Homo sapiens: one gene and its partners. The protein of the gene in region 4 interacts with the protein of the main gene of each other region in a pairwise test. Each region holds a gene or a part of one and is shown on either strand. Other genes may lie near its edges.

Region 1 (4,383 bases), 8.3 Mb from region 4:
CACCACGCCTGGTTTTTTTTTTAAGACGGAATCTCGCTCTGTCGCCAGGCTGGAGTTCAGTGGCACGATCTCGGCTCACTGCAACCTCTGCCTCCGGGGTTAAAGCGATTCTCCTGCCTCAGCCTCCCGAATAGCTGGGACTACAGGCGCGCACCACCATGCCCAGCTAATTTTTGTATTTTTAGTAGAGACAGGGTTTCACCATATTGGCCAGGATGGTCTCGATCTCATGACCTCGACCTCGTGATCTGGCCGCCTCGGCCTTCCAAAGTCCTGGGATTACACGCATGAGCCACCGCGACCGGCCTTGGCTAATTTTTGAAAAATATTTTTTGTAGGGTCTCCCTATGTTGCCCAGGCTGGTCTGAAACTCTTGGGTGCAAGGGATCCTCCCACCTGGGCCTCCCACAAGTCCTGGGATTACAGGCCTAAGCCACCACCCCAGGCCCTCTCAAAAATCGCTTTTTGAATGAATAACTCGGGAGGTCACGACTGGAACCCTGGGCTTGTTCCACCTTGCAGAAACAGAAGCGGAGACAGGGAGTTCCTTTATAAAAACTTTATTGAGGGGATGGGTAGAAAATGGGGGTGACGCCCTTGGAGTTGAATACATAAATAAATGAATAAGTAAATAAATAAAGCAATAAATAAGCCCCCGTGTGAGTCTGGGGGGCGTCCCCCGGCCCGCGGGGAGAGGGGAGCGGGCTCACGCCGATGTCAGCTGTATGGCGAAGACCTCGCCCTCCGCCGGCGACTCGGCCGCGCCCCCCGCCGCCTCGGGTCCGCCCTCCGCGCCTGCCGCCCCGCCAGCGCCGCCGCCCGCTCCGTTCAGACACACGGCCTCGCCTGAGCTCTCGGCCTCCTGCACGTTGTACTCGCCCTTCTTGCAGGCGGTGGACTGCACGTAGAAGGCCAGGCCGGCCCCCGCGGCCAGCAGCGCCGCGCCCCCCGCCGCGCCGCCCACGGCGACCCATAGCCACGGACCTGCGGGGTGGAGACCCTCGCGGAGGGTGGCCAAGCTCCGGGGGGCTTCTCCCACCGCCCCCCGCACTCCCACAGGCACGAAGTCAGTCCTCATGCCCCGGGGAGCTCACTGTCTGGCCTTGGGAGAAGGGAGACAACCCATGCAATAAGGCCACTCCCAGTGCCAGGGCGACCCGAGTCCCGATTTATATCGCACTTCAGCCCATGGGGATATAAACCCGTGACCACACTTAGCCCCCTGGCGACAAGTCAACTCTCCCCATCCCCCAAAAAATGAGGACCGGCAGGACCAGGTCAGGTTCCCCCGACCCCAGAGAGAACCCAGCCCCAGGAGCTTCAGGAAGTGAGAGAAGGCGATCTTGACCCCTCTCTCCCTCCAACATCCAATGACTTTGGTCCCTCCCCAATCTTCCCCACAGTGGATTGTGAATTGGGTCAAGTTTCCACCACGCAGAATCCAGCCCAAGTTTTAAAGTCCTTTCCTGCAGCAGTGACAGCCCCGGAGGGTCCCTCCCCTTGAATTCAGTCCCCCTGCCACCTCCATCTCCCACCCCTCAAAGTGCGATCAACAGCCCCACCCGCTAAGGCACCTTTGACTTCTACTCTGTCCCACTTCCGTCTAGTCTACCGGGACCGAGAGGGAGGCAGGCGGGGCCGGCCGCCCCAAGACCCAGGTCACGCCCCCTCTCAGATACCTCGCCCCGCCTCTCCCCAGCTGCCACTTACCGGCCACGCGCACCGTGATGCGCCGCGCGTGGCGCCCGTGCGCGTTGGTGGCTGCGCACTCGTACTCGCCGCCGTGGCTTCCCATGGCGCCTGCCACGCTCAGTGTGCTGTTGTTGCTCGACAGGCCGATGTTGAGGGCCCCCGGGGGCGCGCGCCAGCTGATCTGGGCTGGAGGCCAGGCCTCCGCGCGGCAGGTCAACGTGAAGTTTCCTCCTGGGCGCACGCCTCCAGGGGGCGAGGCAGCAAGTTCGGCCACCACTGGCCGGTCTGAAGGGCACAGAAGGTGAAGTGGGGCTTAGCGCCGGCCCAGCCACTGATCAAATGCCCTGCTCCGGCCCACAACGATCGATGGGAGACCACCGCGCCTCTGATGGGCAGAAGAGGATCCTGCCTCCTATCAGAGCCTCCTTCCCCGACAATCAGGCTGCTGTTGCGGCTAAAATTCCTCGCCCTTCTTCACCGAATGGAAGGAGGTGAAGCCCAGGTCAGTGTTCTAATCCAGGATTTGAGGAGGGCCGTGCTCCTATTCCCTATAATTTTCTTTTTCTGTTTTTCTAAGAAAGAGTCTCACTCTGTTGCCCAGGCTGGAGTGCAGTGGCGGGATCTCGGCTCCCTGCAACCTCTGCCTCCCAGGCTCAAGCGATTCTCCTGCCTCAGCCTCCCAAGTAGCTGGGACCACAGGCGCCCACCACCACGACCGGCTAATTTTTGTAGAGACGGGTTTTCGCCATGTTGGCCGGGCTGGTCTCGAACTCCTGGCCTCAAGTGATTCATCCGCCTCAACCTTCCAAAGTGTTGGGATTACAGACCTGAGCCACTGCGCCTGGCTAGAATTTTCATTACCCCCTGGTTTAGGCTGGAATTCCCTGTCCCCGAGAATGGGATTGGGAGAGGTGCCCTTGAATGCTCCCACCGCTGCGAGTCATTCTTCCGAGGACCGTGTCCCCTCCATCCGGTGCTGCCCCCACTCACATTCCACGCCCACAGTGACGGTCCGGGAGTCCGTGCCATGCGCATTGGTGGCCACACAGTGGTAAGTGCCCGCGTCCTCTCGGGACACGCGCTGCTGCTCAGGCCATGGGATGCCTTCCCGAGAGCAGCGCACTCCTGGGGAAGGGCGACCCCGGGCGGCGCAGGCCAGCGCGGAAGCCTCAGCCCCTTCCAGCCACGTCTGGTGACTTGGGCAGGTAGATTCATCCATCTCCGGTGGCGCTGCAAAGCAGCCATGGGGGATGTCAGGGAGTGCCTGGACCGTGGGGCACCCCTGCTCCCTACCCGCCTGGGCCTCGCTCACACTCCGCGCTCACGACGACTGTTTTGGCCACGGAGCCGTGGCGGTTGGTGGCGTTGCAGACGTAGATACCGGGTGCCAGGACTCTAGGGATTCTGGGAGCTCTGGGACTAGGGTCTGGGGGTGCCAGCGGCAGCAGCACCCCCTCAGTGGCGCCCCCGGAGCCCACGCACTTCACGCTTGGCTGTGGCTTCCCATCGACCTCACAGGAAAACAGGCGCCCAGATCCTTCCACCCATGTCCAATTGCTGGGGCAGCTCGGCTCCTCAAACCTGGGGCCATCTGGGAAACAGGATTGCAGGGGCTCACACGGGGGCCAGGAAGTCCAGCCGGGGTTGTCCCACAGATCCTGCCTAACTCCGCGGTGCCCCTACTCACATTCCACCGTGACGGCCACATTTTTGGCCGCAGAGCCCCGAGGGTTGGTGGCTTCGCAGCGGTAAGTGCCCGCATGCTCCCGGGCCACACGCAACAGCCCCTCGATGACGGCCCCGAGTTCTCCAGAGCGCACGCAGATCACATCAGGCGGCGGTACCCCGTGCGCCACACAGCTCAGCGAGGCTTCTGTTCCCTCCAGCCAAGTAATGCGTTCTGGGCAGCCCACGCTGTCCAGCGCTGGTGCGTCTGGAGGAGGGAGTGTATTGTTGGCTTTGGGGTTTGGGGGCAAATCTGACGTCCCTAGACCCTCCTTGGCGCGGCAAGGCTTCCACGAAGTGTTGTCCCTGCATAACCCTTGGACGCCGATCCAAGGAGGTGTCACGCTAGTCGAGGCATGCACTCTGTCTGGGAGCTTCCTGAGCCACCAGTGGCGCCTTTTTCGTCTAAAAACTTAAACACTCTGGACTGCCCGCCTTTCCACGACTCCGCCCAAATACCACGCCCTAGGCTAGGGGCACGCCCACCCGGTCCCTTCCATCCTCCAAGATCTTTCTCCAACCCCACTAACCAGCCTCTTCCCTTTCCCAAAACCTCACCCAAAGGGACACCTCATACCCTACTCCTACTCTTCCCTGGAGGCTGGCCACCCTCCAGACCTTGAACCAGATAGAAATGCACCCTGCGCACCCCCACTCACACTCCACCGTTAGCGTTACGTCCTTGACCGCCTCGCCTTGATCATTGGCCGCCTTGCAGCGGTAAGTGCCTGAGAGCGCCCGAGTGACTGGACCCAGCAGGCCCAGAGCCAGCACGGCCCCGCCGTCGGAGCGCGCACAGTGCACTGAGGGTTCTGGGTTCCCGCGGGCCTCGCAGCGCAGCGTCTGCTCTGGGCCCTCGGGCCACGTCCAACTCCTGGGGCAGTCCGAATCGTCTAGCCGGGGAGCGTCTGCGGGCAGGGCGTGGGGTTACAGAGGCTTAGACGTAAGAAATGGCTCCGCCTCCAC
Region 2 (3,297 bases), on a different chromosome or scaffold from region 4:
TTGATAAAATGTTTTTGGTGGGTCTAAGGAGGAAGGCACCTTGACATATTTAATTAACAGGAAAGTTTCTGGCAACTTGAAGTTTATATAGATTTTAGTAATTTGTGCTAAGGTTTCTCTTTTGACCTGCATCACTACACTCTCTTTCAGGGTGCCACTTAGTTGTTAGCTATATTATTTTCCTGTTAAAATTTCATGTTAGAAATTTAGGGCTTTAATATATTTGCTATTCTTACAGATTATGTATTCTTTTAGATAGAAATTTACTGCTCCTCCCTGTTTTTATATTTGTTTTTGGAATTCAACTTCTGATATGAATATTTTTTTCCCTAAACATAAGGCTTTGGCAGCTCAAGTACATCTGGGTTTAACTTCAGCAATCCTGGCATCACGGCATCAGCTGGTTTGACTTTTGGGGTGTCCAATCCTGCCTCTGCAGGTTTTGGAACAGGAGGACAACTCCTTCAGTTGAAGAAACCTCCAGCTGGAAACAAAAGAGGAAAAAGATAAACATGGGTTGATGTGTTGAGAGAATCCATAGCAGCACCGTTCATTCTATGAGTCTATTTTTCTAATGATGCAGTAATTAAATTGCATCCCAGGAGATTTATAAAGTTTTGATATTTTTCCCTACTCTGGAATTTGAACTTTCTTCATGTTTGCCATACTGAACATCTTTTTTCTTGTGGAATTTAAAGTCCAGCTGTGTTTTCTTTTTAATTTGATTCTCAGTGTAAGAAATGTTCTGATTACATCACTGATTGGTAATGGTTAGAAACCATTAACCTAAAACTTACTATTTAACCTAGTGTTTTTGTTGATGAGGTTTACATTATGTGAATACATGCACATTTGTTTCTTATACAGGTGGTGTGAACTCTAGGGCCTATACTAGAATCAATTTGTTCCTTGTTAAAGGCCTTTTGAATTATACTGCAGGGCATCTTGTGAATATGTATGTAAATATATACAGAATAATACACACAGTTGTGTGTGCATATAAAATACATATTTACGCCAGGCGTGGTGGCTCACGCCTGTAATCCCAGCACTTTGGGAGGCCGAGGCAGGCGGATCACCTGAGGTCAGGAGTTTGAGACCAGCCTGACATGGTGAAACCCCATCTCTACGAAAAATACAAAAATTAGCTGGGCATAGTGGCGGGTACCTATAATCCCAGCTACTCGGGAGGCTGAGGCACGAGAATCACTTGAAGCCGGGAGGTGGGGGTTGCAGTGAGCCGAGATCACACCACTGCACTCCAGCCTGGGCAACAAGAGCAAAACTCCGTCTCAAAAAAGATGAAAATAAAATAAAATATATATTTACAGGCCTACAACTTTTGCCTCAGACTGTTCCCCTTTTCTAAGGGTATTCAAGTTTTCACCTTTTAAGCTTCATATCCTCAGTGCTTGTAGAATGATGAGCTTAGAGGTACCAGGTCATTGCAGTTGTTTGCTTAAAGACTTATTGAAATGGTTACTGGCGTAAATACTTGGCCAACTCAACTTTATTGCCCCTGATCTTTTCCATTTTTGTTTCCACCTTAACCTATAGCAGCTCCTCCAAATGAGGAATGCTGTAAGTAAGACTCATCAAACAGATTTTAACCATTTTATTATCCTGTGTGTCCTTACATTGCTTCTGTGAGATGTTTTTTTCTTATCTGAGATGAACTTTCAGGAGCCTATTTGAACTCCAGACTGGTGTTCTGGGGCAAAGAGCTATTAGCCAAACTGATTCTATGCAGGTGAAGGATGCACTAAAGTTCTCACTTTAGTGAGAACTTTTCTAGCTATTCCAATACAGAGTTCTTTCTTATAGGGCTATTGATATTGACACCAAATGGAGTGGCTTCTCAGCCTCTTAATGTCTTAAGTAAGTGCTTAATTTGGAATAGAGAAACCAGTATATTTTAAAAAAGAAAAATATTCTTTGTAGCAACTGTAAATTCTCCCATTATAACAGTGAACAGAGCTCCAGGTAATAACGCATAGGCATGTCAGGTTGCATCTGTATATTTGACTACATTAGTATTAGTGACATCAGGTGGATATAAAAGAAAACCCTTGGAAAGAGAACTGCCTTAGCCATGATTTCGTTAGTAGACCTATTTATGATTCAATTGCAATTTTCAGATAGGATGTGAACATGGAATTTCATTGAAAATAGTTTAATTTTTTATATAAAAGGTTTTGTATATAATGTGTGTCAGTGACTATTTTCAAAATCATTTTCATCAAGACACCTTTTTTCTAAAATAGGCATTGCATACACATATGCACACGTATGTGCATGTGCCACACATTTTTTGTATAATGTTGGGTTTGATTATAAAAGTGTTGTCAAATGTTTTATTTATCTGCATATAGCAGTGGTTGGCTTTTTTGAATTGAAATTTTTGCGCATTGATGCATTGAAATAAGGAAAATTATTTATCTCTGAGCACTAAACTTATTTTTGCATATTTCTGTAATATTGCAGTCCCCAGATCCAGAACATGGGAAGTTAGGGAAAATGTGTGATTTTGTGTTTTGAATTACTGTCAGAATTACATACACAATTACAACAAACTTTTTTTAAAAGACATTTCATTGTACTGCAAAAATCTGAATATTTATATTTCTTGTTTTTTTCTTTATATGTTTTGCATTTTAATATGTTGAGCCACTGGAAATTTGTAACAGATTAATTTGTTATAGGAGTTTAAATGTGTTGTCATTGTCTCCATTGTCTTTGTCCAGAGCCTATTATTATGGAAACAATAAAATTTATTGTGTCAGTTGCTTTGATTCTTTATAGGTGTCAGTAGCTGTTCTTAATATGTAATTTTATTATTGCTCTTTTAGTCTCCGGTTGGGTTTTAGTATATTCCCTTCATTGGTTTATACATCTTGCTCTTTTTTAAACAGAAGAGTGAACATAAGATAGTAAATTATTTCTCACTTGCTTTTGTCTTCTCAAAATGACAAAAACAGTGAACATTTTTAGTTATAAAGAATAATATTGAGTAAAAAAGGAAAAATCCCTTTGAACTTTTGGGCCCTAATTCCCTTCCATTTCCTAGTGTGCAGTCTGATGGTTTGATATGTATCCTTGTAGACCCTTTTAAATATGTCTTAAAAGAATATATAAATGTTACTTCTCTTTTCTTTTTCTTTTATATTCTCTCTGATTTTTTATCACATTTTATTCTCTTGGATCCCTCTTTACTTTTTTAACAAATAGGTTAAAAAGTTTGTGTTCTGGACTTGTTCTTTTTCCCTTCTATTAGTATATCATCAGCATCTTTCTGTG
Region 3 (7,056 bases), on a different chromosome or scaffold from region 4:
CGTGGTGGCGGGCGCCTGTAGTCTCAGCTACTTGGCAGGCTGAGGCAGGAGAACGGTGTGAACCCGAGAGGTGGAGCTTGCAGTGCGCCGAGATCGCACCACTGCACTGCAGCCTGGGCGACAGAGCAAGACTCCATCTCAAGAAAACAAGAAAAAAAAGAAAATAGCTGAAGGTCTAGAAAGAGAAATCCACGTGTCTCCAAGGAAACCTGCAGAGCTGGCTGAAGTGCTGATGCTGCAACAATCCCCACTGTTTGCTGCAAGCTCACTCCTTACTGCTTCAGTCATCACTGATGTAAGACACAATTTAAAATTTGACAAACTCCATGAAAGGTTACCTGCATTCAAATTTTTTTATTAACCTCAGAATTTCAAGGCTACCTATACATTTCTATCAGTATTTCCCTATAGAAGTATTTTTGGTAACACTATCTTTTTTTTCCTCAGACCTCTCAAAAACAGTGTTTAAAAAAAACTGATAAAACTATATATTAAATATCCAACTGTGTATTAGATGATAAAGCAGCCTGAAGCTGTAGAAATACTAATGCATTCCAAAACAATTTTAAGCAAAAAGTTGCCTAATCAAGATATAAAACTAGGTACCAATTAGCATTATTTGATACATACTTGGACGATTTCCCTAGTCACAGAGAAACTAAGTTGTATCTTTAACTTTTTTTTTTTTTTTTTTTTTACTACTCCTTGCAGAGCAGGGCTACCCCATAGGCAGTGTGCCCGGAGTAGCCTAATATCATTTAAGTGTAAAATACATGGATTCATTTCTTAAAAGACACCATTTGTGGCAATAAAACATTTTAACTGGCCTTCATCTCCCTAAGGTTGGCCCTGAATCCTTCTGGCCCGCCCAGCACTGTGAGGATGAGCACAGAGGACAAAGCTCCTCTACTTCCCTCTTCTCCTGGCCCGTGTGTTCAATGCACATTACAGAAAACAGGTGATCCCAGAAAAATGTGGGCCCTCAGGAGGACTGGAAGGCACACTCAAGCTGCCTTCCCTGCCCAGCGAGAGCCTGGACTCCAGCCCTCCACCCTACAGAAGCTCAGCCAGGAAAAACCAGCTTCCCTCACCAAGAAACCAGTGCATCACCTGCATTTTAAAATAATATACTAAATCAAAAGAAGTAATTTCTACAGCAGATCACTCACATCAGAGCTCTACAAGCATAGGTGTCCATTAGAACCCCACTTGGCAAAAACCTTTTTAAAACCATGCTGCTCAAAAGACTCCATAAGCCAAATGCAGCTATTTAAATCTGAAGTCATTAAAATTATACACAATTTAAAATTTGGCCCCTCAGCAATCTTTGTTTGGATATGACCCCCAAAAGCACAAGGAACAAAAGCCGAAACAGACAAGTGGGATTACATCACACTGAAAAGCTTCTAGACAGCAAAGACACAGGAGTGAAACAACCTTGGAAATGTGCAGAAGGATCACTTGAGCCCAAGAGCTTGAGACCAGCCTGGGCAACACAGTAAGACACCATCTCTACAAAAAGATAAAAAAAATTAGCTGAGTGGGGTGGCACATGCCTGTACTCCCAGCTATGCAGGAGGCTGAAATGGCAGGATCACTTGAGCGCAAGAGATCAAGGATGCTGTGAGCCATGTCATGTCACTGCACTCCAACTTGGACAAGAGACAGGGCAAGGCCCTGTCTCAGAAAAAAACAAAATATATAAAAAATAAAAATTTTAAGCCAGGCGCAGTGGCTCACGCCTGTAATCCCAGCACTTTGGGAGGCTGAGGCGGGTGGATCACCTGAGGTCAGGAATTCAAGACCAGTCTGGACAACATGGTGAAATCCTGTCTCTACAAAAAATACAAAAACTAGCCAGGTGTGGTGGCGGGCGCCTGTAATCCCAGTTACTTGGGAGGCTGAGGCAGGAGAATCACTTGAACCTGGAAGGCAGAGGTTGCAGTGAGCCGAGACCACTCCATTGCACTCTAGCCTGGGCAACAAGGGCGAAACTTCATCTCAAAAAATAAAATAAATAAAAATAAACAAAAAACTTTAAAGTTAAAAATGATAAAATAAAAGTGACAGTGCTGTAAAGTAGCACTTTAAAAGAAATCACAGCTGGGTACAGTAGCTCATGCCTGTAATCCTAACACTTTGGCAGGCTGAGGCAGGGGGATCACTTCAGCTCAGGAGTTCAAGACCACGCTGAGTAACACAGCAAAATCTTGTCTCTACGAAATATAAAAACTCAGTAGGGTGTGGCAGTGTGCACCTGTAGTCCCAGCTACTGGAAGTGGCTGAGGCAGGAAAATCACTTGAGCCCAGGCAGTCGATGCTAGTGAGACGTGAACGCACCAATGCCCTCCAGCCTACGTAACGGAGCAAGACCCTGTCACAAAAATAATAAATTTTTTTTTAAATAAAAAATAAAAAAACAAATAATTTCAGGCTGGAAGGGAATTTGCGTAGAGCAGGAAGATATTCTCTAACTACAAAATTAACTTTTTTTTTTTTTTGAGTTTGAGTCTCACTCTGTTGCCCAGGCTGGAGTGCAGCAGCACAATCTCAGCTCACTGCAACCTCCACCTCCCTGGTTCCAGCGATTCTCCTGCATCAGCCTCCCGAGTACCTGGGACTACAGGTGTGTCCCACAATGCCTGGCTATTTTTTTTTTTTTTTGAGACGGAGTCTCACTCTGTCACCCAGGCAGAGTGCAGTAGAGTGCAGTAGAGGGATCTCGGCTCACTGCAAGCTCCGCCTCCCGCGTTCACGCCATTCTCCTGCCTCAGCCTGCTAAGTAGCTGAGACTACAGGCACCTGTCACCACGCCCAGCTGATTTTTGTATTGTTTTAGTAGAGATGGGGTTTCACCATGCTAGCCAGGATGGTCTCAAACTCCTGACCTTGTGATCTGACCACCTTGGCCTCCCAAAGTACTGGGATTACAGGTGTGAGCCACCACACCCGGCCCATAATTAACATTTCTAATAACAATTATGAAACTTCTTTAAACTATTAACTAGGTCCTACTGTCTATTAAGGAAGCCATAGAAAACTTTTCAATTAAGAAATTAAGAAAAAATATTTCTTAGGAAAACTCGGTTTGTTAATTTCTGCAATTTCCAAAAGCAATACATCTAAATCAAGTTTAAAAAAACGAAAAATCTCTATTAAAACCATGAAAAAAATTAGCCTAATCGCCATTAATCAAAAATAACCTTCTCCAATAAATTCAATGACCTCTAAGTTTAGGACTTTTAAAAAAACACGTCACATAAAGATTAGGCGTGGGTAGCTCATGCGTATAATCCCAGCACTTTGGGAGGCCATGGCAGGTGGATCACCTGGGGTCAGGAGTTTGAGAACAGCATGGCCAACGTGGTGAAACCCCGTCTCTACTAAAAATACAAAACCCAGTCAGACGTGGTGGCGCCTGTAGTTCCAGGTGAGGCAGGAGAACTGCTTGAACCCGGGAGAGTTTGCAGTGAGCTGAGATCACACCACAGCACTCCAGCCGGGGCAACAGAGCAAGACTCCATCTCAAAAAAAAATAGTGGTTTCTAAATTCATCTGAGGCCAGGTGAGGTGGCTCACGCCTGTAATCCCAGCACTTTGGAGGGCCGAGGCACGCAGATCACCTGAGGTGTTCAAGACCAGCCCGGCCAACATGGCAAACCCCTTTCTCTACTAAAAATACAAAAATTAGCCAGGCATGGTGGTGAGCGCCTGTAGTCCCAGCTACTCGGCAGCCTGAGGCAGGAGAATTGCTTGAACCTGGGAGGTGCAGGCGCAGTGAGCCAAGATAGTGCCACTGCACTCCTGCCTGAGCAACAGAGCAAGACTCTGTCTTAAAAAAAAAAAAAAAATTACCTGGGTGTGGTGGTGCACATCTGTAATCCCAGCTACTCAGAAAGAAGGCTGAAGCACAAGAATTGCTTGAGCCTGGGAGGCAAAGGTTGCAGTGAGCCAAGATCACGCCGCTGCACTCCAGCCTAAGTGACAGAGTGAGACTTGGTCTCAAACAACAAAAAAAAAAAGCAAAAACAAAAAAAGTACAGACAGGTAGGAAAAAAAAAAACCCACAGCAGTGAATTTTCATTCCTTATCACACACATCACCTACTTATTTCATTATCCAGTATGTCCTAAAATATTTCTGAAACAAACACAGAAGTTATTTCCCCATTACTCAAGATCAGAGACCATTTCTTCAACTAGCACTCATCACCTATTAGATACTTCCAAGCTTAACTCCCTTTCATTAAAAAATCATAATAGGCCAGGCTTGGTGGCTCACACCTGTAATCCCAGCACTTTGGAAGGTCGAGGAAGGTGGATTGAGGTCACAAGTTCAAGACCAGCCTGGCCAACATGGTGAAACCCTATCTCTACTAAAAATATAGAAGTTAGGCCAGCACGCTGGCTCACGCCTGTAATCCCAACACTTTGGGAGGCCAAGGCAGGCGGATGACCTGAGGTCAGGAGTTGGACAGGGCAAAACCCTGTCTCTACTAAAAATACAAAATTAGCTGGGTGTCGTGGTGCATGCCTGTAATCCCATGTACTCGGGAGGCTGAGGCAGGAGAATCGCTTGAACCTGGGAGGCAGAGGTTGCAGTGAGCTGAGATTGCACCACTGCACTCCAGCCTGGGCAACAAGAGTGAAACTCAAAAAAAAAAAAAAAAAAAAAAAAAAATTAGCCAGGATAGTGGCACGTGCCTGTAATCCCAGCTACTCCGGAGCCTGAGGTAGGAGAATCACTTGACACTAGGAGGCGGAGGCTGGGGTGAGCTGAGATCACGCCACTGCACTCCAGTCTGGGTGACAGAGTGAGACCCTGTCTCAAAAAAAATTATTATTATAATAAAATAGGGCCAGGCTCGGTGCTTCACACCTGTAATCCCAGCACTTTGGGAGGCCAAAGCAGGTGGATCACCTGCTTCCAAACCAGTCTGGCCAACATGGCAAAACCCACTCTCTACTAAATATACAACAATTAGCCAGGTGTAGTGGCGAACGCCTGTAATCTCAGCTACCAGGGAGGCTGAGGCAGGAGAATCGCTTGAACCCCAGAGGTGGAGGTTGCGGTGAGCCAAGATCGCGACACTGCACTCCAGCCTGGGTGACAGTGTGAGACTCTAAAATAAACAAAGCAACACTCGGTTAAGTACTCAGTCTCCAGTGCTGCTGAAACTTATTTTTTCCAACTTTCTTGAATTCTGGATTCCATTATTAATCACAGGAAGGTCATCAGGACATACACAAACTAGAAAGAATCTAATTCAATCAATACTTTCTAAGCACTCTGTGTCCTGGACATTCCTATAAACACAAATAACTTCAGATTCAAAGCCCACCCAAGTGGTACATGCCATCTCAAGGTGGCAGAGAGGAATAAGTATTAGTACACAGTTCATAAGCATACCAACTAGAGCACACACGTATATATGCACAACACAAATATAAAACACACTTTTAATTTAAGCCTTTGGTGGCAAAAGGTAAGTAGAAAAATATCAAAGGGGGAAAAATCATATGTAGTGTAAACTAAATCACCCTTCCAAAGACACGTAATTTTGCAACACAGCTTAAGAATTCTAAAATATGGCCTGGCGCAGTGGCTCACACCTGTGATCCCACCACTTTGGGAGGCCGAGGCGGGTGGATCACGAGGTCAAGAGTTCAAGACCAGCCTGGCCAAGATGGTGAAACCCCCGTCTCTACTAAAAATACAAAAATCAGTCGGGAGCAGTGGCAGGTGCCTGTAATCACAGCTACTCGGGAGGCTGAGGCAGGAGAATCGCTTGAACCCGTGCGGCAGAGGTTGCAGTGAGCCGAGATGGCGCCACTGCATCCAGCCTGGGCAATATGAGATTCCATCTCAACAACAACAAAAAAATCTAAAATCTGGCCAGGCACCTGGCTCACACTTGTAATTCTAGCACTTTGACAGGCCGGGATGAAAGACTCACTTGAGGCCAGGAGTTCGAGACCAGCCTGGGCACACAGGGTGATTCCACCTGCGCGCGCGCACACACACACACACACACACACACACACACACAGCCAGGTGCGGTGGGTCACGCCTGTAATCCCAGCACTTTGGGAGGCGGAGGCAGGGGATCACCTGAGGTCAGGTGTTCGAGACCAGCCTGACCAACATGGTGAAACCGTCTCTACTAAAAATACAAAAATTAGCCAGGCGTGGTGACACGCGCCTGTCATCCCAGCTACCTGGCAGGCTGAAGCAGGAGAATGGCTTGAACCCAGGAGTGCAGTGAGCCAAGACCGCGCCACTGCACTCCAGCCTGGGACACAGAGCAAGGACTCCATCTCAAGTAAATCAGTCAGTCAACTAATCATCAATCAATATTCCTTCTCAAGTAGGATATCTCCAGGAACATGAAACAGGTCAACAGTGATTTATGTCCATACAAAAACATAAAGGGTTTTGTTTGACAAAACACCTCATTAATATCAATACAAAAAAAAAAATCACATTTTTACTAGTTGACTTTTCTGCAGGTAGGCGTTGTCGTTTTTCCATTCCTACATCATCGTTTCTAACATATTCTTGTTTTCACCAACTTTGCTCTTCTTCTCATTAACCTCATTTTTTTGAGTTTGATATTCTCAAATTCTATTCATCCTTGAACTACACCATTTGCTAAATCCTGCCACTGATCCTACTCTTACTCGCTAATGAGCCTGCAGTTACCCGCCTCTCACCACCAGGTGGGGTCCTGCACAAATTTAACCAAACCACATTTTGAACAGAATCATTTCTGAGGAAATGAAAAAGTTTTAAAAAGGTTTCCAAAAAACGCTGTTAATCCAGTGTGTAACCTCGATGCAAATAAATACTAAGAAGTAAAAATCCCGTCAAAACGTCAACTCACAAATACAAAGGCTAATTACATTCTCTTATTCCTCAACAGATATCTGTAAGCATTAACCAATATAGAAGCTGACCTTTACAGCAGACGACAGTAAGGTGTCTGTGCGGTCCCGCGGTGACACCCAGTCCACAGCGACACGTTCAGGATGACTAAAAATACCTGCCCAAGTTATG
Region 4 (7,828 bases):
GGCAGGCAGATCACCTGAGGTCAGGAGTTCAAAACAAGCCTGGCCAACATGGCGAATCCCCGTCTCTACTAAAAATACAAGAATTAGCCAGGCATGGTGGCGGGCATCTGTAATCCAAGCTACTTAGGAGGCAGAGGTTACGGTAAGCCAAGACCGCACCACTGCACTCCAGCCTGGGTGACAGAGCAAGACTCTATCTCAAAAAAAAGAAAGAAAAAAGAAAAGAAAATAAAGGACCAGGCGTGCTGGCTTACGCCTGTAATCCCAGCACTTTGGGAGGCTGAGGTGGGCAGATCACGAGGTCAGGAGATCGAGACCATCCTGGCCAACATGGTGAAACCCATCTCTACTAAAATACAAAAAATTAGCTGGGCGTGGTGGCACGCGCCTGTAGTCCCAGCTACTCAGGAGGCTGAGGCAGGGGAATCACTTGAACCCGGGAGGCGGAGGTTGCAGTGAGCTGAGATCGCGCCACTGCACTCCAGCCTGGTGACAGAGTGAGACTGCATCTCAGAAAAAAAAGAAAAGAAAAGGCCATCTTGGTGGGGTGTGTACCATTAGGAGGTTATGAAGTGTGACTTTGTCAAATGTGTGTGTACATGAGTGTGTGTGCTTGGGGGCTGAGGACAGGCATCTGAAGGTCTGTGCTCAGTGGGGCATGTCCAAGCTCCACGGACAGCCACGTGTGCAGGATTGGCATGTGTCGAGGTATACAGCAGTGTCCCAGCAATGCACAGCGAAACTGATGTGAAGTTTCACGGCTGTGCCCTCTGGGGAAGTGTACATCTGAGGGCCACCAGGTGAGAACACCATTGTGCACTGGCAGAGGGTTCCTCTGCTGGCAGCGTCCTGACCGTGCCAACCCTGGTGCAAATCGAGCATAGCCAGGCGGCTTGGGCAGCAGCGCTCACTTCATTTTCAGCTGCTGCATCCGTACAGCGTCCTCCTGCCCCGCCAGCTCTGGCGTCTCCATCAACTGCAGCAGGGCCACCTGGTGGGGGAATGAGCAACACGAAGGATGTCTCCACGAGCAGAACCCACCCCCTGCCCTCCAAGGATGTTCAGGAAAAAACAGAGGCACCCAGAAAGGCAGTGCCCGGGTAGAACCACGAGGGGCAGTGCTTTGTGTAGGAAGAGTCCGAAATTCAGTTTAGAGGCTCTCTCAGAAAGGAGACAGCAGGCAGGCCAGAGGCAGTGCTGAGCGCGATGTGGGCGTGGCCTGGGAACAACAGTGACGTCTTAGCCAGGCATTGGCCGTAGGGGTGGGTTAGGTTGCGCCTCATGGTCCCAGGGACGGGGACCCAGGATAAAAGTAGGCCAAAAAGCCTGGACGCGGTGGCTCACGCCTGAAATCCCAGCACTTCGGGAAGCAGAAGAGGGCGGATCGCTTGAGACCAGGAGTTCGAGACCAGCCTTGCCCATATGGCACAACCCCGTCTCTACTAAAAAAAATACAAAATACAAAAATTATGCCTGTAATCCCAGCTACTCAGGAGGCTGAGGCAGGAGAATCGCTTGAATCTGGGAGGCGGAGGTTGCCGTTAGCCGAGATCGCGCCATTGCACTCTAGCCTGGGTGAGAGAGCAAGAGAGCAAGAGCCTGTCTTAAAAAAAAAAAAAAAAAAAAAAAACACCAGAAAGAAAAAGGCCAAAGAGACGCTGAGACGGGTCGCTCATGGGGGGCGTGGCCTAGGAATTCCAGTCACACACGGTTGCAGGGCCGAGCAGGCGGATCGCAAGAGAGAAATAGGCAAAGAACTAAAGCTGTGATGGAGGAATAATACGGAGGAGGCGTGGCCTGGGACCCCCCTCGCCTGTATCTACGGGAGGTTGAGGGTGGGACCCTAGACGCGGAACAACCAGAGTGGGTGGAGCATTGTTGGGGCGGGATCTGGGCATCTTGGAATAGCATTTAGGCGGAGCTGGGAGAAAGCGGGAGTGCTCTGGGAATAAGGACAAAACTTGGGAAAAAAATTGGGGATGAACAGCAGAGGGCAAGGTCCGAGAATCCCCAAGTGAAGCCTTAATAGAGGATTGGGGTGGGACAGGAAGGGGTGAGGTCTGTGTATGGGATACTGGGACCACCCCCCAACCAGGGGTGCGTCATGAGAGGAGCCGGCCAGGGTCCTAGAGACACGGCGGGGAAGGGGTGGTGGCCTCACCGTGCCCAGCCGCGTCTGCTCCAGCTCCTGCAGGCTGCGCACGTGGCCGGCGAGCAGCGGCTGCCTGCGAGGCCCGCCCAGCTCTGCTTCCACCGCCAGCACCTCCCGCGAGGCGGCGGCGAAGGCCTGGGTCACCCCGTGCACTGTGCTCCGGTAGCGCGCGAAGTCGTAGTCAGGGCCGCTGCGCAGGTACTGGCGGTGGCCTCTGCGGCATGTGGGGACCCTGAGGCCGCGCCCCCAGGCTCTCAGGCCCTGCACCGGCGCCAACCACCTGAAAGGCCCCCAGGAAGTGTCCCCAGACACCAGAGGGGAGGACTGGTAGGTAGGAAGGACGCTTCCTGACTCCCGCAGGGGAACGCGAGACAGGCCCACCCCTGCTCTTGGGGAGGAGAGAGAAGCCACGAAGAGTGAGTCGTCGGGTAGTGGGGACGTGCTGTGGGGCCTTTTTCGTGAAGGTGAGGACCCGGTGCCCCGAAATCCCCGCCCCATCTGACTCTGCAGCCACACAAGGACCCAGCTCCTCCTCCAGGCACGCCCGCCGAGAACACGCCCACGCCCGGAGCGGGCGGGGGACCGAACCCTGAGCCCCTCCGCGCCCCCACTCACTCCTCCAGTCGGCGGAAGCCCTGCGCGCGCTCAGCCTGCAGCTGGTGGATGCGCTGCACCAGCGTCCGGATCGGGGCGTCTTTCTGCGGGACAGGGGGCACGGCTGGGGCATGAAGCCCGCGCCCCTGGGTCTGCGCCGCCCGCCCCGCGCCCGTTCCCGCTTGGGCCTGGGCTCACCCAGGGCCACGCCGGCTCCTCGCGTCCCCGAGCTTCGGTGGCCTCCTCAGCAGCAGGCACTGCAGGGACCGTAGGCTCCGCCGCGGTCTCGGTGATCATGACTGCGCAGCCCTGGCCAGGCTCCGGAGCAGGCCCTTCCGCTGCGCCCGACGCCCCCTACAGGCCGGGAGGTCCACGGACCCCCTACCCTGCGGCCGGCCAGCCAGAAGGAAGAAAGGGGAACCAAGACCGCGGGCCGCCCAGTCAAGCCCACCCTTCTTGTTCCCGTCCAGGGCCCGCCTCCGATCGTGTTTTTCCTTGATTGTGCGGCTCTGAATACAGAACAGCTGTTAGCCTTGAGTTCGTTCCTATGCTTGTATCTCAACACCGACTTCCACTTGAAGCGGGTACTGAGCGTGGGTTTTGACGTTCAAGAGTGTTAAGTAAGCCTGGGCAACCTAGGGAGGCCCGATCTCTACAGAAAAACCAATTAGCCCGACATGGTGGCTCCCGCCTCCAGTCCCAGCTACTCGGGAGGCTGAGGTGGGAGGATTACATGAGCCCGGGAGTTGGGGGCTGCCATGAGCTATGACCATGCCACTGCACTCCAGCCGGAGCCACAGTGAGTCTGCCTCAAAAAAAGTGCAGTGGCTGGAACTCCACCAACATTAACAGAGATTCACTGGCTCTTCAGAGAATCACAGGGGTGAAGACAAGATTCAGTGACAGGGACGGTGTCAACAGCCCACCGAGTTGAATTGGGTGTCTTGTGTAATAGCCCTGAGCCTGGAGCATAGCAGGGGCCAGAACGACCTCAAAGTACAGAGGAGGCCTTGGAGCTTCCTGCTGGAGGGATACATGGGCTAGACAGAGCTTTGGAAAGCTTCCTCCTCCAGGGGCCCAGCCGGAGGAGCAGGAAGATGCTGGTAGCCTGACTTAGTGAAGAGGGACCAGCTCAGGTATGGGGTGACAGACACCAGCCTTTAAGGGGGAAGGGACTAGGCTGTTAGTGAGTTGGGAGTTTTTCTTGCCGATGGGTTCGTGGTCTCGCTAACTTTGAAGAATGAAGCTGTGGACCTTCGCGGTGTGTGTTACAGATCAAAAAGAGTCCACGGACCAGGAGAGTGAGCAGCAGGGCAGTTTATTGAACAAAGCGAAAGGAAAGCTTCCACATGCTGGAAGGGGACCCGGAAGGGTTGCCGTTGCTGGCTCCGGTGGCTAGGGCTCATATCCCTATGTTACCCCTCCCCTTTCTTTTTGTCCATTGAGAGTGGTTCTTTTTTCAATCCTCCTCTGGAGTGTTTTTTTTTTTTGTTTTTTTTTTTTTTTTTTTTTAGTGAGACAGAGTCTCGCTCTGTCGCCCAGGCTGCAGTGCAATGGCACGATCTCGGCTCACTTCAAGCTCTGCCTCCCGGGTTCACGCCATTCTCCTGCCTCAGCCTCCCCAGTAGCTGGGACCACAGGCGCCCGCCACCACACCCGGCCAATTTTTTGTATTTTTAGTAGAGGCAGGGTTTCACCGGGTTAGCCAGGATGGTCTCAATCTCCTGACCTCGTGATCCGCCCGCCTCGGCCTCCCAAAGTGCTGGGATTACAGGCGTGAGCCACCGCGCCCGGCCTGGAGTGGTTAATTCTGAATCCTTCACTCGATTGGTTAAGAACTCAAAACACTGAGTCACAGGGGTCTTCTGTGAAAGTCCCCAAACCTGCCCAGTAAATCCTGCCAACTCCACCCCTCAGTCCCCTCTCTCAACAGGAGAGCCCAACTGCTGTTGGGGTGTGGGAGGATGACCACTCTAATTGCTTCCTGCTGAATAGGGGCATAGAAGGGGTTCTGTAGCTGAGGTTTCCTCGTGAGAGGTGGTTTGGGTGTCAACGTCCGGGTATGGGCCGGCAGGCTGGTTTAGGGGTCCTTGATAATAGGTGCTGGTTGAAGTCATCTGAGGTTCCATCTGCAGTAACATTTCTAGTTTCATTGATTCTATTCAGGAAGAAACGAAAGGATGAAGGAACTGAAAAGACATGGGCCAAAGGTTACTCCTAGAATAATCATAAGGAAGGGACCTAAAAATGGAAGAAGCCAGTGGAGAACAGGCTGTGAGAACCCTGAGGTAGTTTCGGTTGTCCCACCATGTAGTCTGCTAGCTCTATCCTGAAGTCATTTAATTCCATCTCTCACTATGCCTGATTTATTGACATAAAAACAACATTCCTTGTTCAGAAAAAGGCATGTTCCTCCCCTTTCGGCAGTGAGGAGATTGGAGATCTAGTGCTCACTGGTTCTGGAGAACCACAGCTGCTAATGAGTCTATTTGGTCCTGGATTTGAGTAAGTTGGAGAGAGATTTCATCTAGGCTGTGAGTCCACTTCCTAGGTGGTAGTAAATCCTAAACCAGCCAATAGAGGAAGTAGTGAGATTGCTCTCGGCTGAAGCTTAGCATGAATGGGCACAGCTACTGCCTCTTCTGAAAAGGAATAAGTCACAGGAGGTACTATGTAGGCTAAAGTACAAGTTCCTGTCCAGTTGGTGGGGAGGCAAATATAGAAGGATCTTCCACACACAAAGAAAACTCCTTATCAGGGTTCTATACACCCCTGTAGCTGAAAACTCATAAGGGCTGTGGTCAGTCTAAATTCATTTCTCATTCCCATGATTTGAGGGTTCAGGACAAATGGGCCACTCCTAGCAGTTGGAGCTGAATAGAATTTGCCAAGGACGTATTATGGGGTTCCTGTAAGGCAAACCGGTGGCTAGCTGCATTAAGAAAAACTCTCGGCTGGGTGCAGTGGCTCACGCCTGTAATCCCAGCACTTTCGGAGGCCAAGGCTGGTGGATCACGAGGTCAGGAGATCAAGACCATCCTGGCTAACATGGTGAAACTCCATCTCTACTAAAAATACAAAAAATTAGCTGGGTGTGGTGGTGGGCGCCTGTAGTCCCAGCTACTCGGGAGGCTGAGGCAGGAGAATGGTGCAAACCTGGGAGGCGGAGCTTGCAGTGAGGGAGATCGCGCCACTGCACTCCAGCCTGGGCGACAGAGCGAGACTCCATCTCAAAAACAAAACAAAACAACAACAACAAAAAGAAAAACTCGCGCACCCCAGACAGGAAGCAGGAAGCAATGGGGTTTTTTTAACCCTTTGCCTGTGAGAGAGGAACCAAGTCCCAGGAGGGGGATATCCTGGGCAAAAGGAAGTCTGCCCCAGCAGTAATTGCTTGTTGTTTTGGCCTCTGGTGGGGGAATTATTTGGCTTGGGGTGGTAAATCTTAAGGGATAGGTGACTGAAATAGGGTTTCCAAGGAACTCATGTTTATTTCCACAAAACATTGGGGTGCCAGTAGTCGTACTGTAAGAATTAGAATATTTGAACTCTATATCCAAGGCAAGCTATAGTTGCAGCCAGCCACGTGTCCCACACCTTGTGATCATGGGAACACTTGATGGGAGATACAAAGGAGTGGAGGCGAAGAGAAGGAGGTTATTGTGCCCACAGAACCTATGATTGGGATAGCTGATAGAGCGAATTGTCGGAGAATGGCGGCGGCTGCTTTTAAGGCTGCTTGAGCCCTGTCAGGGAAATTGGACCTATCACTAGGATGAAAAAATCCTGGACCCTTAGAAGTGTTAGCTATGTATGAGGCCTCAGAGCTTTCCACCCATATGTTGAGGGGGGCCGGAACTGCTGTATATAAGGGGGAAATTAGGGTTCATGCAAACCCAACAGGATGAGTTACTCTGATTGGGAAGTGCTTCAAATAAAAACCTGGAGGACATGTTTATAATTCCCTCAAGGTAGGCCGGGCACGGTGGCTCACGCCTGTAATCCCAGCACTTTGGGAGGCTGAGGAGGGCAGATCACGAGGTCAGCAGATCGAGACCACGGTGAAACCCCGTCTCTACTAAAAATACAAAAAATTAGCCAGGTGTGGTGGTGGGCGCCTGTAGTCCCAGCTACTTGGGAGGCTGAGGGAGGAGAATGGTGTGAACCCGGAAGGCAGAGCTTGCAGTGAGCCGAGATCACGTCACTGCACTCCAGCCTGGGCGACAGAGCGAGACTCTGTCTCAAAAAAAAAAAAAAAAAATAATAATAATAATAATAATTCCCTCAAGATTAGGGGAAGACATTGAGCGGGGAAAGGTTAAGACTTGGGCAAAGGCAAGGAATGTTAGGATGTTAGAGTACATTCTGTTTTTAAAACAAGAACTGAGGTAGAACTTATGAGCACTGATTAATTTTCCTTCTGAAAGAGGATACATAAGTCTTCCAATGGCTCGTGGGTGTAAGAAGGTTTGTCTGGCTGACTCTTAGATTCCCAAGCTAATGATTCTGCGGGTTTTTCAGGCTGTATCCAAGGTTTGATTCAGGTGTGATGGATCCAAGACTCCACTCCAATCACCTTGACTGCAGTTGGAGTGGAGAGGATAACCAAATATGGTCCTTCCCACGATGGATCTAGGGATGGGGAGGTAGAGGGGAGGGACTTGACTAATACTAGATCCCTGGGATGGAACGATGCTTTTCCCTTTTCTCGGTGGCATCCCTCGGGTAATGTCTTTAGGATTTGCTGGTACCTAGCCAAAGAAGTTATGTCCTTGACCAAGTTGGCAGTTTCTCAATCAAGTAAGAGGTTGTTTGTGAGAAAAGGCTGTCCATATAGCATTTCATAAGGACTGAGTCCTATCTTGTGGGGAGAATTTAGGATCCTTAATAATGCTATGGGCAAGAGGGTGAGTTTCCATGGGAGGTGAGTTTCTTGTGTTAATTTCCTTGAGTGCCTTTTGAGTGTTTCATTAATCTTCTCGACTTTCCCTGAGGATTGTGGTCCCTGGGCGCAATGAAGGTGATTTTTTTTTTTTTTTTTTGAGGGAGTCTCGCTCTGTCGCACAGGCTGGAGTGCAGTGG

Evidence for each region.
Region 1: the proteins of REX1BD (region 4) and ICAM5 interact in binary tests that used the Homo sapiens proteins (3 or more experiments, as listed by UniProt).
Region 2: the proteins of REX1BD (region 4) and NUP58 interact in binary tests that used the Homo sapiens proteins (3 or more experiments, as listed by UniProt).
Region 3: the proteins of REX1BD (region 4) and DNAJB6 interact in binary tests that used the Homo sapiens proteins (3 or more experiments, as listed by UniProt).

The regions. Positions count from the first base shown.
Region 1 is NC_000019.10:10,292,940-10,297,322, reverse strand, and holds the end of ICAM5 (intercellular adhesion molecule 5 precursor), read right to left. Parts: intron 4,326-4,383; coding exon 4,077-4,325; intron 3,626-4,076; coding exon 3,380-3,625; intron 3,284-3,379; coding exon 3,005-3,283; intron 2,923-3,004; coding exon 2,683-2,922; intron 1,978-2,682; coding exon 1,711-1,977; intron 985-1,710; coding exon 707-984; 3' UTR 545-706; downstream 1-544. UniProt on the Homo sapiens protein: ICAM proteins are ligands for the leukocyte adhesion protein LFA-1 (integrin alpha-L/beta-2).
Region 2 is NC_000013.11:25,339,625-25,342,921, forward strand, and holds the end of NUP58 (nucleoporin p58/p45), read left to right. Parts: intron 1-340; coding exon 341-510; 3' UTR 511-2,797; downstream 2,798-3,297. UniProt on the Homo sapiens protein: Component of the nuclear pore complex, a complex required for the trafficking across the nuclear membrane.
Region 3 is NC_000007.14:157,339,958-157,347,013, reverse strand, and holds part of DNAJB6 (dnaJ homolog subfamily B member 6), read right to left. Parts: intron 1-7,056. UniProt on the Homo sapiens protein: Has a stimulatory effect on the ATPase activity of HSP70 in a dose-dependent and time-dependent manner and hence acts as a co-chaperone of HSP70. Plays an indispensable role in the organization of KRT8/KRT18 filaments.
Region 4 is NC_000019.10:18,584,017-18,591,844, reverse strand, and holds the start of REX1BD (required for excision 1-B domain-containing protein), read right to left. Parts: upstream 3,048-7,828; 5' UTR 3,044-3,047; coding exon 2,945-3,043; intron 2,852-2,944; exon of another isoform or gene 2,851-2,851; coding exon 2,768-2,850; exon of another isoform or gene 2,651-2,767; coding exon of another isoform or gene 2,433-2,650; coding exon 2,162-2,432; intron 992-2,161; coding exon 912-991; intron 1-911.